Regions from separate parts of the Homo sapiens genome. Here region 1 is linked to region 2. Evidence: fine-mapped expression QTL. Tissue or cell type: esophagus muscle. Region 2 holds a variant in brackets; the other region holds the start of a gene. All regions are shown on one strand. Distances are between the middles of the regions.

Region 1 (8,099 bases), 180 kb before region 2:
GGCTGCTGATCTTGCGGAAGAGCGTCCCCTCACAGAGGCGGAGCAAGCGCTGCTGGCGGATCAGGCCCATGAGCTCTGGCTTCAGCTTCTCCCGCAGCTCCCTGATAGAGGGGTGTCACTGAGCACATCTGACCTGGGGAGTAGCCCAGGGGGCACCAAGGAAGGTAGGGCTAGGACTGAGGATCCATCCCCCCAGACTCACAGTATAGGGGGAGCCAGTGTGCCCTCCTGGTGCAGCCGTTCAGTCTGCCGCAGCCGCAGCACCTCCCCATAAGTGAGCGCATTCACCTTGGTTCGGAAGAGCTCCAGGGAAGTGGGCTTCAGGGCCAGAGTGCGGGCCAGCTGCTCCCGCACCACCTGCATGACCTGGGGCCGCCCAAGCTCAGCTCAGGGCCTAAGCTCTGTACCCAGATCAGCCCCCTGCCCTGGCCCAGGCCTCCCAGCTCCCACCCCACCCACCTTGTCGAAGTCCTCCTGTGTAGCCCGCATCTCCTTCCAGGTCTTATTCAACAGCTGGATGCCCACACAGAAGAGCTCGTGGAAGCTCTGGTCTTGGCCGAAGAACATGGGTGAGAAGTCCTGGGCTGTCTCAGAGCCTGGAGTGGGGGGGCAGGAGGGGCTCAGGGAGAAAGTGCATACAGCCCCTGGCCCTCTCTGCCCTTCCGTCCCCTGCTCTTGGCCATGCTGTGCCCAGTCCAGGCCACTCACAGGGCTCCCCAACACGGAGCAGCTCACACAGCAGCACCGTCAGCTGGATGCTGCCCCGGGCAAAGGGGCACTCGTGCTTGTCCTCGCGGCTGCTGTTCTCCAACACAAACTGGGGGCGCAGAGAATGGGGCAAGGAGTCACAGCTAAGCCCATGGGGACCCTGCCTGGGGGATGCTGCCACCCCCCCACCCTACCCTGTCACCGACCCGGCTGTACGCGCTGGGCGCGTTTCTGGAGAAGTACAACATGTTGTCCAGGGCCAGCAGACCGGGGGGCACGCGCTCCAGGTCCTGTGCTGGGTTGCTGTTCTGGGGGAAGTGGGCACAGGCAGTTCAAGAAGGGCCACGGCCGCCTGGAACAACAGCCCTGGGCTGAGGCAGGGGTGGGGAGTTGGGTAGGGGTGATACTCACAGAAAAGCCCAGTTTGCGGAACTCTCGGGCACAGAGGGAACGGCGACGGTCAGCACTTAGCCCGGCACCCGAGGACTCCCCCTCCACCTCGAAGGCAGCCTGGCGTAGGACCTGCAGCTGCTCCCGCTGCTCCTGGGGTCAGTGTTGGGTGGCGGGGGAGGGGATCAAGATTATAGATTCAAGGCCAAGCTCTAAGCCACCCCCTGCCTTGTCCTCACCAAAGACACACACCTGGCTGTAGGGGTCCAGGGGCGTCCGCATGCGCGGCTCCAGCAGCCCCAGCATGAGAGCCTGCAGTACGTACAGGTGATGAGCCATCTCGTCGCCCATTGGTGCTGCACTGTGGATGATGTTCTGCAGGACAGCCAGTCCCTGGTGTAAGCGAGGGCTCACGGGGAGGGAGGGGCAGAGAGGTCCCCCTGGCCCACCACTTCCTACCTTATAGATGAACTGGCGAAGGTTCCTCTGCCAAAGATAGTCAAGCATGTGCTGAGGGGGTAGAAAGAAAGGGGGCTTAGGCTGGGCGCGGTGGCTCACGCCTGTAATCCCAGCACTTTGGGAGGCCAAGGCGGGCGGATCACGAGGTCAGGAGATGGAGGCCAACCTGGCTAACACAGTGAAACCCCGTCTCTACTTAAAAAAAAAAAAAAAAAAAAAAAAATCAGCTGGGCGTGGTGGCGGGAGCCTGTAGTCCCAGCTACTCGGGAGGCTGAGGCAGGAGAATGGTGTGAACCCGGGAGGCAGAGCTTGCAGTGAGCCAAGATCGCACCACTGCACTCCAGCCTGGGCGACAGAGCAAGACTCCATCTCAAAAAAAAAAAAAAGGGGGGCTTAGAGGATTTTGCTTCAGGGTGGGGCAGCGCCCACCGGGTGCTGCCCCCATCTAGCCACCGATCGACACTCACCTTGCGTTCCACAGGGCTGGCCCCCTGCAGCAAGGCTGTCAGCAGGGCCATGGCCTTGGTTTGCAGCTGCTGGTTCATCCTATGGCAAGAAGAGGGCTCAGTGGAACATTCAGGCTCCAGCCCTGCTCCCTGCATCTGGACCCCAGCCCCAGAGGCTTACACCTGTAGGTGCACCAGCAGCCTATCCAGGGGCACCTCGCTCTTGACCAGCTGGCCCAGGGCTGGGCTGCTCAAGGTCACACTCTCCAGCAGCCCAAGGGCCAGGGGAGGCACGGAGGCATCCATGAGGTTCATGTTCACGTAGCACACCACCTGTAAGGGGCGGGGGTGTCACCACCTCACCCCCATGGAAGACCGGGTCTACCACTGCCCCACTGCTCCACTGCCCCCACCCGCTGCCCTAGGAAAGCCCACCCACCTTCCTCACAAAGGGGATGCTCAGAGTCTCCCAGGACACCACGCCGTGCTCCATGAGCTCTGAGAAGGCCCTCAGGCTGAGGGCCAGCACCTCTCCTAGGCTGGAGGGGGGACATCTGGGGCTGAGCAGGACCACCCCAGGACCAGAAAGACCCACCATCTCCCCCAGCCCACACATCCCTGTGCTCACTCGTCCCCATCTTCAATGATGGTGCCTAGTATCTGGAGCCCATTACGGCTGATGACCTCCCTGGCAAAGATCATGTCCGAGGCCAGCGGAACAAGGCGCCTCAGGGCTTCCCGGCGCCCTTCAGGACTGTTACTCTGCAGCCCACCCAAGAGCTGCTCAGCCTCAAGGTCCTGGCAGGAACGGAGCAGGAGCAGAGGTGAAGAGGCTGGGCATGGTAAGGGTGGGACCTGGAAGTGTGCGGCCCCGGGCGTCAACTAGGTGGCGCAAGGCAGGGCTGGGGCGGGGGCCTCCGGGGCGGGGGGCCTCTGGACCTGGAGCAAAGGGGCAGGGATGGGGAAGGCGGGACGGGAGGGGCATTACTGGGGCCGTGCTGAGGCACAGGATGCTGCCATTCTTGATCTCCGCGCGGTTCTGGAGAAGACAGCAGAAAAGGCAGCGAGGTCAGGGAGGGCTCCGAGGACTGATCAACTGGGGTGTCGGTGAGGGCGGCTGGGGGTGAATAACAGATCGCGCTCCGGTAGTGGGATGAAGAGCCAGAGTTATCGGGGCCAGGTGGGTTAGAGGGGTCGGAAGGCCGAGCTTGGGGCTGGGGAGAGGGGACTCACATTCTCGGTGATGTATCTCCGGTGCCCATCCGCAAACTGCAGGGCGTAACGCTCAGAGTGCGTCAGGCTCCACCTGAGGGGCACGAGGCTCAGCGAGGCCGGCAGGGGGCGCCGCCCCTCCTGCCCTCCCGCCCTCCGCAGGCCCTGGCCCGGCAGCACTCACGCGTCGCACACCTCCTTCAGCACAGCGGCCAGGGGCTTCGCCTGCAAGTGGAGTGGTCATTCTCGCGGCCTGGGCAGGGAGGGATGGGGAGGAGCCTGGGGGGAGGGGTGGGGCGGGCTGCCCCGAGGGCCAGGGGGCTACCGGGAGGTGGGGCAGTGGGGCAGATGGAGGCGGGACCAGCCGGGTGACCTGGTCCAGCTGGATGAGCTGCGGGATGGCGTCACGCATCTTGATGGCAATCTTCACCACGTTCCGCGGAGGCGCCATGGTCCAGCTGGGACGTGGGCGCCTGCACTTTCCGGAGACCGTGCACCTGCGGCCAAGGGTGCACCTGGCCTGGGGCCCCTGGGGACGAGGAGGTCCTCCCTTTCCGAGACCTGACCTCGGTGTCCCGCACTCGCGGCCCAGACTGCTGCTCCTGGCCATGCAACGCGGCCTTCCCAAGGGAGCCGAGGTTAGTTCCGGGTTGGAGTCTGGGGGTAGGAAGGTAGGACGGCTCCGCCTGCCCCGCCCCGCCGAGGCGGCCCCGCCCCACACCAAGGTGCGGCAGGTGGGGGCGGGGAGGGCAGGCTGCCGGAGGCCGCCCCACCCCTAGTTCCAGCAAGGTGACCCACCCAATCACACTGCCAGTCCAGCACAGTCCCAAGGAGGGTCCCCAAAGAACCACATCAGAGCTAGCCTTAGGCATGGTTTTTATTCACTTGAACACTGTACAAATATTACAATTTCCTTTTGCTGCAAAAAGTATAAAAATAATCTTTATATAGGAATCCATTCGTTACTGTAAATCTTTCTAAATCTCTGCAAATGGCTCTAAATGAGGGTAAATGAAAAAGCCGAAATGAAGAGAGGGTTATGGGGCAGCAGGAGGTGGGGCCAATCATCAGGGCTGGACCACCCAGACTCCTCCCCAGAGACCTCTGTTCCTTCTTGGTAGCCGCCCCCACCACCTGCAGGTTCTAGGGCTAAAGGCCCAGCAGAAGTGGGCACGTGAGAGGGCCAGGAGGAGCTGGAGGGTCAGGGGGTGGGGGATAGCGAAGGAAGCTAGAAGTGGTGCTGGCATGTGCCCAGTTCCACCCCACCCTTCCCTCCTAGGGGAAGGAGCTGGCAGAAGCAAGACACTGAGGCTGGCAGGAACAAGACACTGCCCCCTATGGGGGGTAATGGCAGCTCCTCGGTTCTGTGCCACTGGGTGGCAGCCGAGCCTGGGCTGGCGAAGGCCGCAGAAAGGGAGAAGCAAACACTTTGGCTCCACGGTGATGGGGGCTGAGTCCTGTTCCCCTGCTCTGCGAGCACAGAAGTGCCAGCACAGGAGCGGGAGCTGTGGCCAGAACTGTGCGGTGAGGGGAGGCCGGAGAAGCCAGGCGTCTGTGGCTCTCAAGCTCTGTAGGGGTCGGGTGGGAGAGGTCCCCAGGCAACCCCCAGGTCAGACAGTCTGGGTCCCAGCCACACAGGGCATGTCCCTGTCAGTCAGAGGTTGAGAACAGGCACATCAAAGAGGTCACAGACACCTTCACTCTCGTCCAGGTTGTAGATATAATCGTGGTCTCCCGGGGGTGGAGAAAGACGAAGCAGAGGGGCAAACACTGCAGAGAGCACTAGTCTCAGGCCCTGGGCCAGGGCTCCCCTAGCAGCAGCCCAACCCCTGCCCACACCCACTCCCACCTTCCAGGGCCACCCACCTTCTGAGGACATCAACTCCTCCAGCAGCTCCGAGCTCATGCACTCTGGGAATGGAGGGAGCTCAGTTACTAACATTCCAGCTCCCACCTCTCCACCCACCAAAGCCCAGGAAAGGGAACCCCACCTGCCCATCAGGAACTTCACCCTTTGCCCCAGTTACCATAAGCGCCACAACAAGGTCCTCAAAAGGGCAAGAAAACAGCCATAGGACCCAATGAGCTGTGTCCCTTACCCCTAGCCTCAGGGAGGAATGCAGCAGCCTACCTCGTGTGGGATCAAAGATTTCTGACAGCTCTTTGGGGAGTTCCAAAACTGAAAAACAAGAAAGCCATGCTCAGGGCACAGAGGTCCAGCCTGGCCCCACTACAGCCCCCTGGCTTCCTCGGATCCTATACCACCCACCCTGAGGCTCCACACAGCTAAGGAGATGTAGGTCCTGCCTAGGCCAAGCTGGCACTGTCTGTTGGCCTCACTTGCTAAACCTGAATTCCTCAGTGCTGAGCCCAGGGTACCAAAGGCCCCCTGCAAGCGATTGGTACAGCTTTTCTAACTCGGAAAGGCCACAGAAGCCTCTTTCTGGGCTCAGCATGCACCCCCTGTCTGACAGAAGGTACCCCATCTGTCCCACCCTTGCTGAGCACCTGCTCTGTGCAAGACTGAGACCAGACCCTGGGTCAGGTCACCAGGCAGAGGTGGTGGCGCTACAGGGTGATGACTCCACTACAAACCTCTGGCCAGGAGGACACAGGGGAAGCAGAAGAAAATGCAACCAGAGAGGACTATGAGGGATTTCACATGCCAGGCTCAGGAGTTCAGATCTTATCTGGTGGCCCTCAAGGAGCCATTAAAGGTACTTTTGCAAACAGAGAAATGCCACATTTTTCTGTCAGGCCTGCATTTCAGAAAGATTAGTCTGTCAGTCAGGGTAAAGAGAAAGATGCTGAAGAATCCAGGACAGAGGTGGCCAGGGGTCATCCTGAGTGCTGAGGATACCAGAGGATAGGAGGGGACATCTGGGACAGACCTCAGTTAGCTGGCATGGGGTGGGCAGCAGAAGGAGGAGGGATAAGGAACTAGAACTAGAGTGAGAGCCAAGGGTCAGGCCTGGATAACTAGGGCTGACGGCTGGGTGCGCAGAGGTGGAAAGCAAGCTTCGGGAGGAAACTAAGTTCAGTTGAGGACATGCAGGAATAAAGTGTCCATTGGATGTACACAGGACGGCAGGTGGACACCGAAGTGTGCAGATTGGGAAAAGATCTAGGCCAGGCGGAGGCTGGGGATTCGTTCACCCAGAGCTGCAGCCCTCTCCAGGAGTGGAATGGGACAGAGCCCTCAAAAACAGCAATGTTTAAGGACACGCCAGGGAAGAGTTCAAGAAGCCAGTGAGATAGGAGAGCCAAAAGCTGGCATCATGATGCCAAAGGAGGAAAGAATATTGACACAGACCAAGAGAGCACCAGCAAAACACGCTGGAGGCTGCTGGGCTCGGCAGGCCTTCGGCAGCTTCTCAAGAGTAACACCGCTGTAACACTGGGGCTGGGGGGGTGACTGCTGCAACCTGAAAGGTGACTAGGAGACTAATGAATGGAGATTACTTTTTCAAGGAGTCCAGACAGAAAGGAGACAGAGAAGATGAGAGAGAGTGATACAGAGAAGTGTCAATTAGTGAGGCGGTGCTCCAAGGGGTGGCAGGAAAGGGCTTGAGAGACGGCAGGGAGTTCTGTGTTAGCCTAGGATGGGGTGCTAGAGGGGGCACCAGCACTGACCCAGAGGTGCTGGCAGAGAGCTCTCGTGTCCAGCAGGGTTGACAGGAGATCTGGGTTCCATCCCCAATTCTGTTTTCTGACCTAGGACTGGACTGAGGCTAGACTCTCTCTCTCTGCCCCCAGGGGGCAGGTACTCACCACCTGTGGGGTCTGCCTTGATGGGCTCAAAGGAGGTAGAAGGGTTGGGTCCGGACGAACTGCTGCTGTTACTGTTGCTGCTGCTGCTGCTGCTGCTGCTGCTGCTGCTGCTGCTGTCCAGCAGGGCAGAAGACTGCAGTGGCCGGGTGTCCAGTGTTGTTGGGCCCAGTGGGAGTGAACTGAGCTCACCACTGTCCTTGCTATCAGTCCCAGGGCCGCCACTCACTACAATGATAGCCCCCAAACCCAGTCATACAAGGTCAGGAAGAGGTCGTTGAAACTGGCTGTGCTGGAACCCAGACACAGGAGGACCACAAGCCTGGTTCCCAGACCCAAGGAGAATTAGGCATTGCCAGTCACCCCCAGAGGAAGTAACCTGAAATTAGTCACCACAGGAGACAGGGACACAAGACCTACAGAAGAAGACTCGTGGTCAACATGTCTGCTGTGGCCATACTTCAAGACGGGCTACCAGGGCAATTGAGACACCAGTGGATGTGGATCTGGGGGAGAAAACTGCCACCAGCAATGGCTCTTCCCACAGTCAGAGGTTCCCTGTTAAAAAGGGCCCATTCAGGCAGGCATGGTGGTTCAAGCCTGTAATCCCAGCACTACAGGAGGCCGAGGCAGGCAGATCATTTGAGGTCAGGAGTTCGAAACCAGCCTGGCCAACATGGTGAAACCCCATCTCTATTAGAAGTACGAGAATTAGCTGCGCATGGTGGGCGCCTGTAATCCCAGCTACTCAGGAGGCTAAGGCAGGAAAATTTCTTGAGCTTGGGAGGCAGAGGTTGCAGTGAGCCAAGATCGCGCCATTGCACACTCCAGCCTGGGGGACACAGTGAGACTCCGTCTCAAAAACAAAAACAAAAAAGGCTCATTCATTACCATAGCAAGGGAAGGCTAGGTGGTCAGGAAAAGGACAATCCCCAACCTGAAGAGTCTCTTCCAACTCTGAGCATGGTGTTCCACAACACAGAGATACTACCTCTTGGGCCTCTGTCACAAGCTCCCATGGTGCCTCACCTGTGATCTCAGCTGCTGGGCCAGCCATTCCCTGGACTTCTGCACTGCCAGGGACAGCAGTGGGAGTGAGCTGAGGACTATTTGGAC
Region 2 (8,099 bases):
TTAGAGGTGTCTTTTCTGTGCCAAGAAACATCTGCCCCCACCGTCCCAAAACCTGACTGAATTATCTGAAGTCCGGTCATCTGGAATCTTCCTTTCGTAAGGATTCAAGCCAACCAAGGGCCTCCTCTTGAGTATCTCCCTAACTTCCTAGGTGGGTGGCTGCTCCTGCAGGCTCCTAAAGCTGATCTTGGGTGGGTAAGTAGATAATACACAATGAAGCTGAGGAGAGCGCAGGAACCCTCACTTGCCTAGTGCAACTGTGAAGCTCTGTTCAGGGTGCCTTCATGCACCTTATCACAGTTAATTCACACAACCACTTTCTTTTTTTTTTTTGAGACGGAGTCTCACTCTGTTGCCCAGGCTGGAGTGCAATGGTGCAATCTCGGCTCACTGCAACCTCTGCCTCCCGGGTTTAACCGATTCTCCTGCCTCAGCTTCCTGAGTAGCTGGGATTACAGGCGCCTGCCACCACGCCCAGCTAATTTTTGTATTTTTAGTAGAGAAGGGCAGGCTAGTCTCGAACTCCCAACCTCAGGCAATCTGCCCGCCTTGGCCTCCCAAAGTGCTGGGATTACAGGCGTGAGCCACCGCGCCCGGCCCACACAACCATCTTCTAAGTCAGGTCTTCTGTCTCCTGAGAGATGAGGAAACAGACTTTGAAAAAGTAAATAAGGCCAGGAGCGATGGTTCACGTCTGTAATCCTAGCACTTTGGGAGGCTGAGGCGGGTGGATTGCCTGAGCTCAGGAGCTCGAGACCAGCCTGGGCAACACAGTGAAACCCGGTCTCCACGGAAATACAAAAAATTAGCTGTGCGTGGCAGCGTGTGCCTGTAATCCCAGCCACTCTGGAGGCTGAGACAGGAGAATCACTTGAACCCGGGAGGCAGAGGTTTCAGTGAGCCGAGATTGCACCACTGCACTCCAGCCTGGGTGACAGAGCAAGACTCTGCCTCAAAAAAAAAAAAAAAAAAGTAAAAGTAAAAAAGGACAGTGACGAGACCCTGATCCATTTGAAATAACAAAATGGGGGCTGGGCATGGTGGTGCACACCTGTAATCTCAGTAGTTTGGGAAGTGGAAGTGGGAGGATCACTTGAGGCCAGGAGTTTGAGGCCATCCTAGGCAACAGAGTGAGACCCTCCCCCGACTCTAAAGAAACTAGCTAAGCATTGGGATACATCATCTTCATTCCTTCCTCACCACAACCCTGTAAGTTTAGTATTATTGATCCTATTCTACAGATGGGCCAACGGAGATTCACAGGGGTTAAGTGACCCCAGGGTGGTGATTTTAATCATTCTACTCTGAGACCTAGTGGAGATACCAAAAGTCCTGCCTGCTGCCCTCACTGAACTGCAAACTCATAGAAGGCTATGTCTGGGGTTATTCCTCTGGGAGCACCCCACCATGTTCTAGAAGGGTCCCCACAGGTTGAAGAAAGGGGTTCTATTTTGGGCCTTGTGGCAGGATGTGGGTCTGCCCTTGAGGACTGTGCATTCCTATCTCTGAGCCTGTTTGTCCCTTCTTGGCTTGGAAGGTCAAAGTCTAGATGTCCTGCCTCTGCAGGCCCAGCAGAAAGGATGGTTTTATCCAGGTCTGGTGTCAGCAGCCACCCACCTTTGCCTCTCCTCACAGAGGAAGTCTCTGAGCCTCTGATGCATTTTTTCTAAGGAAATAGTTTCCCTTCAGTTACTGAGAAAATATTGTACCATCTTGAAGCTGAAATAGGATCTGGAGCCACAAATGAGACTTGAGAGGAGTGGGAGACAAGGAAAATTAGTGGCTGGCACATTGCCTAAAACCCTGGCTCCACTCAGCTTCTAGTTTTTAGAAGGCAATGGGCCTTAATTCAGGATGAGGGTGTCATCTGCCCAAGTGTGGCAGTTTCCTGGGCCCTAAAGAATTTTTTTCTTTTTGAGATATAATTTATATACCGTAAAATCCACCCTTGGGCCCAGAGAATCTCCCCTCCCTCCCAGGGGCATCTCCCCCTTCTGAGCCCTCTAGCCACCCTCCCCCAGCTCAGCCATCCCATAGGGAAAGGAAAGCAGAGAGGAGCAAGTTTCCCCAGAATAGCATTTCTTTAGTGTTGGGATCAATAAACCCGTTTGCTTAAAAGGAACCAGATGATTTCATCCTTGTAATTATAAGTTTGACGTTTGCAAATCTTGCCCGGGCTCCAAATGAGCCTCTTTGTCATGGGGGTTGGGGGTGGAGGAGTTTGTCTGGGTGCCTGGGGATGGCAGGACTGAGCCTACTGTGGTGGGAAGAGGGCCAAGCTGGGGTCAGGAAGCCTGGCTGATGATCTTAGAGGGCTGCCTTGGACTGCTCCCCTTCCCCTCCCCTGCTCTCCTAGTTTCTGACAAGTGATGGGAAACAGACTAGACTAAGGGGCTAGGGAATAAAAATAATGGTAATAACAATAATAATGGTAGTAATAATAATAATATAATGTGATGAGAGCTGGGATGAGCTCTAACCACACCACCCTTTTGCTTAAGACCCCTCCCCCAAGATTGAAGAAACTTGGGGCAGAAAGACAAAGGCCCTCAGCCTAGCATTTATGACCCCCTGACAATCCCTACTTTCCAACACTATCTCCCATCGTTTCTCCCCATGGCACCCTGCAATCCAGCCATACTGGCCTGTTTCCATTCCCTACGTGCCCATACCATGACTTCCTCCTGTTTCTCTGTTGGGAAAACTCATCTTTCTTCTTTCTTTCTCTTTTGGGGCAGGGTCTTCCTGTTTCACCCAGGCTGGAGTGCAGTGGTGCAATCATGGCTTACTGCAGCCTTGACCTCCTGGGGTCAAGCAATCCTCCCACCTCAGCCTCCTGAGTAGCAAGTAGCAAGTAGCTGGGACTACAGGTGCCACCATGCTTGGGTAATTAATAAAAAAAAATTTTTTTTTAGAGATGGGGTCTCACTATGTTGTCCAGGCTGTACTTCTTCTTTAAATATGTTCACCGGCCTCTGATTGTCCTCCATGGAATGACTGCCCCACAGCATCCATTTATTCATTTGGCTCCATGCTATGGCCAAGGAGATGGTCAGCCCACCTGGGACATAGCAGTCCCCTGGATTCTAGGAGGATTTAGTTCTACACTAATTTGTTTACTTTACTGTGAAGCCTTCATATGAGGGTCTCTCCCCTCACCCTTAAAACTTTTTAAAGTTATTTAAAACTTGTACTTTTTTTGTAGAACATTTAGGACATACAGGCCGGGTGCAGTGGCTCACGCCTGTAATCCCAGCACTTTGGGAGCCCGAGGTGGGCGGATCATGAGGTCAGGAGATGGAGACCATCCTGGCTAACACAGTGAAACCCTGCCTCTACTAAAAATGCAAAAAATTAGCCGGGCATAGTGGCAGGCGCCTGTAGTCCCAGCTACTCAGGAGGCTGAGGCAGGAGAATGGCGTGAACCCGGGAGGCGGAGCTTGCAGTGAGCCAAGATCGCGCCACTGCACTCCAGCCTGGGCAAGCAACAGAGTGAGACTCTGCCTCAAAAAAAAAAAAAAAAAAAAAGTTCTGGATAGTATTTTTAGGATCAATTTCCAAAAGTAGAACCACTAGGTCAAAAGATATGGACATTTTAAGATTCCTGATGTATGTTGCCAAATTTCTCTTTGACATCACCTCTTCTCTTTTCTTGAGTCTTAAGAATCTGTTCCTCCTCCTCCTTCCATTTCTCTTATCAGTGTCTGAGACACAGGAAATGCCAACCAAGAATAAACCAAGAGCTGCAGATAGAGATCAATGGATCAATACAGGAGGTTGAATAATTCAACACTCACTTCTGGCTCATTATTGACTCTGGAATCCAAATGCCTCTTTTACCTTCTCTCCTTTTGTGTCCCAGCTGATAACGCCTTGATAACCTGCCATGTTCTTGGATTCTTTCCCAAACTTTCCAAGCTTGGAACCATCAAAACAGGCAGGCTTTCTCATCATGCTGTAATATTACCTTGTAAATAAGCAGAAATAATTACTAGCCCACGGACACCTCACCAGCCTGCCTCCCCTCCAGGAACACAAAAAGGGCAATTTAGAAAGCAGACAATCGTTCTTTTCCTTGAGATGACACTACTGAGTAAATAGGCAAGGAATTCAGCTTTGGTCTGCTCCAGGCCTGGCTAACTTCCCTCTGTCTAGCTTGTCTTTCTCCCCTTTCTTGGCCAGACCAATTCACACTCTTCATTAAGTGTAGTTTAGAGAGGCCAGGCTCAGTGGCTCATGCCTGTAAGCCCAGCACTTTGGGAGGCCAAGACAGGTGAATGGCTTGAGCCCAGGAGCTCGAGGCCAGTTTGGGCAGCATGATGAAACCCCATCTCTACAAAAAGATACAAAAAATT[A/C]GCTGGGTATGGTGGTGCAAGCCTGTAGTCCCAGCTACCCAGGAGGCTGAGGTGGAAGGATCATCTGAGGTGGGGAGGTCGAGGCTGCAGTGAGCTGAGATTGTGCCACTGCAGCTCTTCAGCCTAGGCAACAGAGTCAGACCCTGTCTAAAAATAATAATAATAATAATAATTCCACACGCGGTGGCACATGCCTGTAATCCTAGCACTTTGGGAGGCCGAGGCGGGCAGATTACCTGAGGTTGGGAGTTCGAGACCAGCCTGACCAACATGGAGACACCCTGTCTCTACTAAAAACACAAAATTAGCCGGGTGTGGTGGCGCATGCCTCTAATCCCAGCTACTCGGGAGGCTGAGGCAGGAGAATCACTTGAACCCGGGAGGCGGAGGTTGCAGTGAGCTGAGATCGCGCCATTGCACTCCAGCCTTGGCAACAAGAGTGAAGCGCCTTTAAAAAAAAAAAAAAAAAAAAGAGTAGTTCGAGCCGGGGCAGTGGCTCACACCTGTAATCTCAGTACTTTGGGAGGACAAGGCGGGCAGATCACCCGAGGTCGGGAGTTTGAGACCAGCCTGGCGAACATGGTGAAACCCTGTCTCTACTAAAAATACAAAAATTAGCTGGGGGTGGTGGCACATGCCTGTAATCCCAGCTACTTGGGAGGCTAAGGCAGGAGAATCACTTGAACCTGGGAGGTGGAGGTTGCAGTGAGCTGAGATCGTGCCACTGCATTCCAGCCTGGGCAATGGAGTGAGACACTGTCTCAGAAAAAAAAAAAAAAAAAAAATGTAATTCAGAGGCCTCTGACAAGGCTTTCTAAACTATGCTGGGCAGAATGATTGCCCCTCAGCGTGCCCTCACCAATGCCTATGAGACAAGACTGGACTCAACTACCTCAAAGGCATCCCACAGGCTTGATAGCTTCCCTAGTCCCGGCTTATGCTAACTTCATCTTGCTCCCTCCTGCCCAGTGGGAGCTCCCAGCATGCTTTGCAGTTTAGGTAGTGTTGGTGACGGAGATGGACACAAAGATGAACAACCCAGGTTTCCCTTCAGTGAATTTCTTTCTCTCTTTCTTTCTTTCTTCCTCTTTCTCTCTCTCTCTCTTCTTTCTTTCTTTTCTTTTTCTTCTTTTTTTTTTTTTTTGACAGGGTCTTCCTGAGTCAAGTGCAGTGGCATGATCCTAGCTGATTGCAGTTTCCAACTCCTGGGCTCAGGCGATCCTCATCTCAGCCTCCTGAGTAGTTGGGACTACAAGTGCACACCACCACGTCTGGCTAATTGTTACTTTTTCTTTTTTCAATATAGAGTCACATTCTGTTAGCCAGGCTGGGGTGCAGTGGTGGCATCATTGCTCGCTGCAGCCTCAAACTCCTGGGCTCAAGTGATCCTCCTGCCTCAGTCTCACAATAGCTGAGACCACAGGCACACACCACTCCACCTGGCTAATCCATGCTTGCTTGCTTGCTTCCTTCCTTCCTTCCTTCCTTCCTTTCTTCCAGAGACGGGGTCTTGTTATGTTGCTCAGGCTGGTCTCGAACTTCTGGGCACAAGTAATCTTACCACCTTGGCCTCCGAAAGTGCTGGGGTTACAGGCACAAGCCACTGCATAAAGCAATTTTCCAAACACTCTCTCGCTGGCCTCTCCTTAATTTCTTCAAGATAAAGAGGGAAGGCCGGGCATGGTGACTCACATCTGTAATCCCAACACTTTGGGAGGCCGAGGTGGGGGGATCACGAGGTCAGGAGATTGAGACCATCCTGGCTAACACGGTGAAACCCTGTCTCTACTAAAAATACAAAAAAATAGCTGGGCGTGGCACATGCCTGTAGTCCCAGCTACTCTGGAGGCTGAGGCGGTAGAATCGCTTGACCCCAGGAGGCAGAGGTTGCAGTGAGCCAAGATCGTGCCACTGCACTCCAGCCTGGGTGACACAGCGAGACACCATCTCAAAAAAAAAAAAAAAAAAAAATGCCGGGCGCGGTGGCTCACGCCTGTAATCCCAGCACTTTGGGAGGCCAAGGCGGGTGGATCACGAGGTCAGGAGATGGAGACCATCCTGGCTAACACAGTGAAACCCCGTCTCTACTAACAATACAAAAATTAGCCAGGCGTAGTGGCGGGTGCCTGTAGTCACAGCTACTCGGGAGGCTGAGGCAGGAGAATGGCGTGAACCCGGGAGGCGGAGCTTGCAGTGAGCCGAGATTGTGCCACTGCACTCCAGCCTGGGCGACAGAGCAAGACTCCATCTCAAAAAATAAAAAATAAAAAATTAAATAAATAAATAAAGGATAAAGAGGGAAATAATTACTGTCTTATTTTGTAGCTCTTGAAATTGAGACTCAGAACAGGTGACTGGACTCATTCAAGGGCATATAGCCAGGTAGACTCAGAGAGAGAGAGATCCCAGAGAAGTCCTGCAGTTGAAGAAATGCAGTCACTTAACTCTTTAATTTTTTTTTTCTTTAGAGGTGGGGGTGTCTTGCTATATTGCTGCTCAGGTTGGTCTTGAACTCCTGGCCTCAAGTGATCCGCCTTCCTCGGCCTCCCAAAGTGCTGGGATTACAGGTGTGAGCCACAGCGCCCAGCCTATTTTATTTTATTTTATTCGTTCAAGGCTGTTTCTCAGTGTGAACTATTTCATTTCACTATTCCTTTTTTTTTTTTTTTTTTTGGAGATGAGGTCTTGCTATATTGCCCAGGCTGGAGTGCAACAGCTACTCACAGGCACGATCCCACTACTGATTAGCACAGGAGTTTTGACCTGCTCCATTTTCGACCTGGGCTGGTTCACCCCTCCTTAGGCTACCTGGTGGTCCCTCGTTCCTAGGAGATCACCATATCGATGCCACACTTAGTGCAGACACCTAATCAACATAGTGAATTACAGCCCAGAACTCCTGGGCTCAAGCAATCCTCCCGTCTCAGCCTCCCGAGTAGCTGGGACTGCAGGCACATGCCACTGTACCTGGCTAGTTTTCCGTTTTACCTTCCTTCACATGCTGACTCACCCTCAAGTGGTACCCATTCTCTTTCCTGATGTTTCTACAAAAATCTTGAGATTGAGCTTAATAGTCCAAGTCTGGGTTATCTGGTCATCCCTGAGCTGTGGTGTGGACACGGTGAATTGCCGAGGACAGGGTGGTGTCACGGGAAAAGGAATGGCTGTACCGTGCAGGCAAAAACATCAGAAGGTACCTGGGTTAGTGTCTAGCACAAAGTTGTAAGTGTTCAAAGAACGGTGGCTATGACACTGTTTATGGTCCCTTCTAGCTCTGAAATGCTATGAGTTGTACAACGCTTTGGTTGATACAAAGCCATCTGTAAACGTTGCCAGTAAGGGAAGCACAGGATAACAATTTGAGTTCACATAAGGTCTAGCCAAAATGCCATACAATGAGCTGAAAGGGTGCCTGAAACCAGGTGCAGTGGCTCACACCTGTAAGCCCAGCACTTTCGGAGGCCAAGGCAGGTGGGTCATCTGAGGTCAGGAGTTCTAGACCAACCTGGCCAACATGGCGAGACCCCATCTCTACTAAAAATACAAAAATCAGCTGGGTGTGGTGGCTTATGCCTGTAATCCCAGCTACTTGGGAGGCTGAGGCACGAGAATAGCTTAAACCTGGGAGGTGGAGGCTGCAGTGAGCCGAGATCGTTCCACCGCACTCCAGCCTGGGCGACAGAGCAAGATTCCGTCTCAAAAAAAAAAAAAAAAAAAAGTAAATGCCTGTGGCCTGCCTCCTTT

What was found. PIP is the estimated chance that this variant, and not a neighbour inherited with it, causes the effect.
Region 1: ELMO3 starts here. The variant in region 2 is fine-mapped to the expression of ELMO3 in esophagus muscle (GTEx, PIP above 0.99).

Annotation. Positions count from the first base shown.
Region 1 is chr16:67,194,894-67,202,992 of GRCh38, reverse strand. It overlaps ELMO3 (engulfment and cell motility 3), which reads right to left and starts at 3,862. Exons shown (of 20, transcript NM_024712.5): 1 at 3,589-3,862; 2 at 3,400-3,440; 3 at 3,237-3,309; 4 at 2,992-3,042; 5 at 2,632-2,801; 6 at 2,443-2,542; 7 at 2,185-2,336; 8 at 2,025-2,103; 9 at 1,558-1,608; 10 at 1,351-1,473; 11 at 1,120-1,251; 12 at 915-1,016; 13 at 709-817; 14 at 460-596; 2 more. The coding sequence starts at 3,666. It overlaps E2F4 (E2F transcription factor 4), which reads right to left. Exons shown (of 10, transcript NM_001950.4): 6 at 8,013-8,099; 7 at 6,987-7,211; 8 at 5,347-5,394; 9 at 5,082-5,126; 10 at 4,075-4,985. The coding sequence ends at 4,870. MIR328 (microRNA 328) reads left to right here and starts at 598; the gene lies at 598-672. RefSeq lists a silencer at 4,467-4,526.
Region 2 is chr16:67,018,747-67,026,845 of GRCh38, reverse strand. It overlaps the pseudogene RN7SL543P. Among named protein-coding and RNA genes, the nearest start is that of CBFB, 6.4 kb to the left of the region's middle. The variant A/C (reference allele first, on the strand shown) is at 4,356.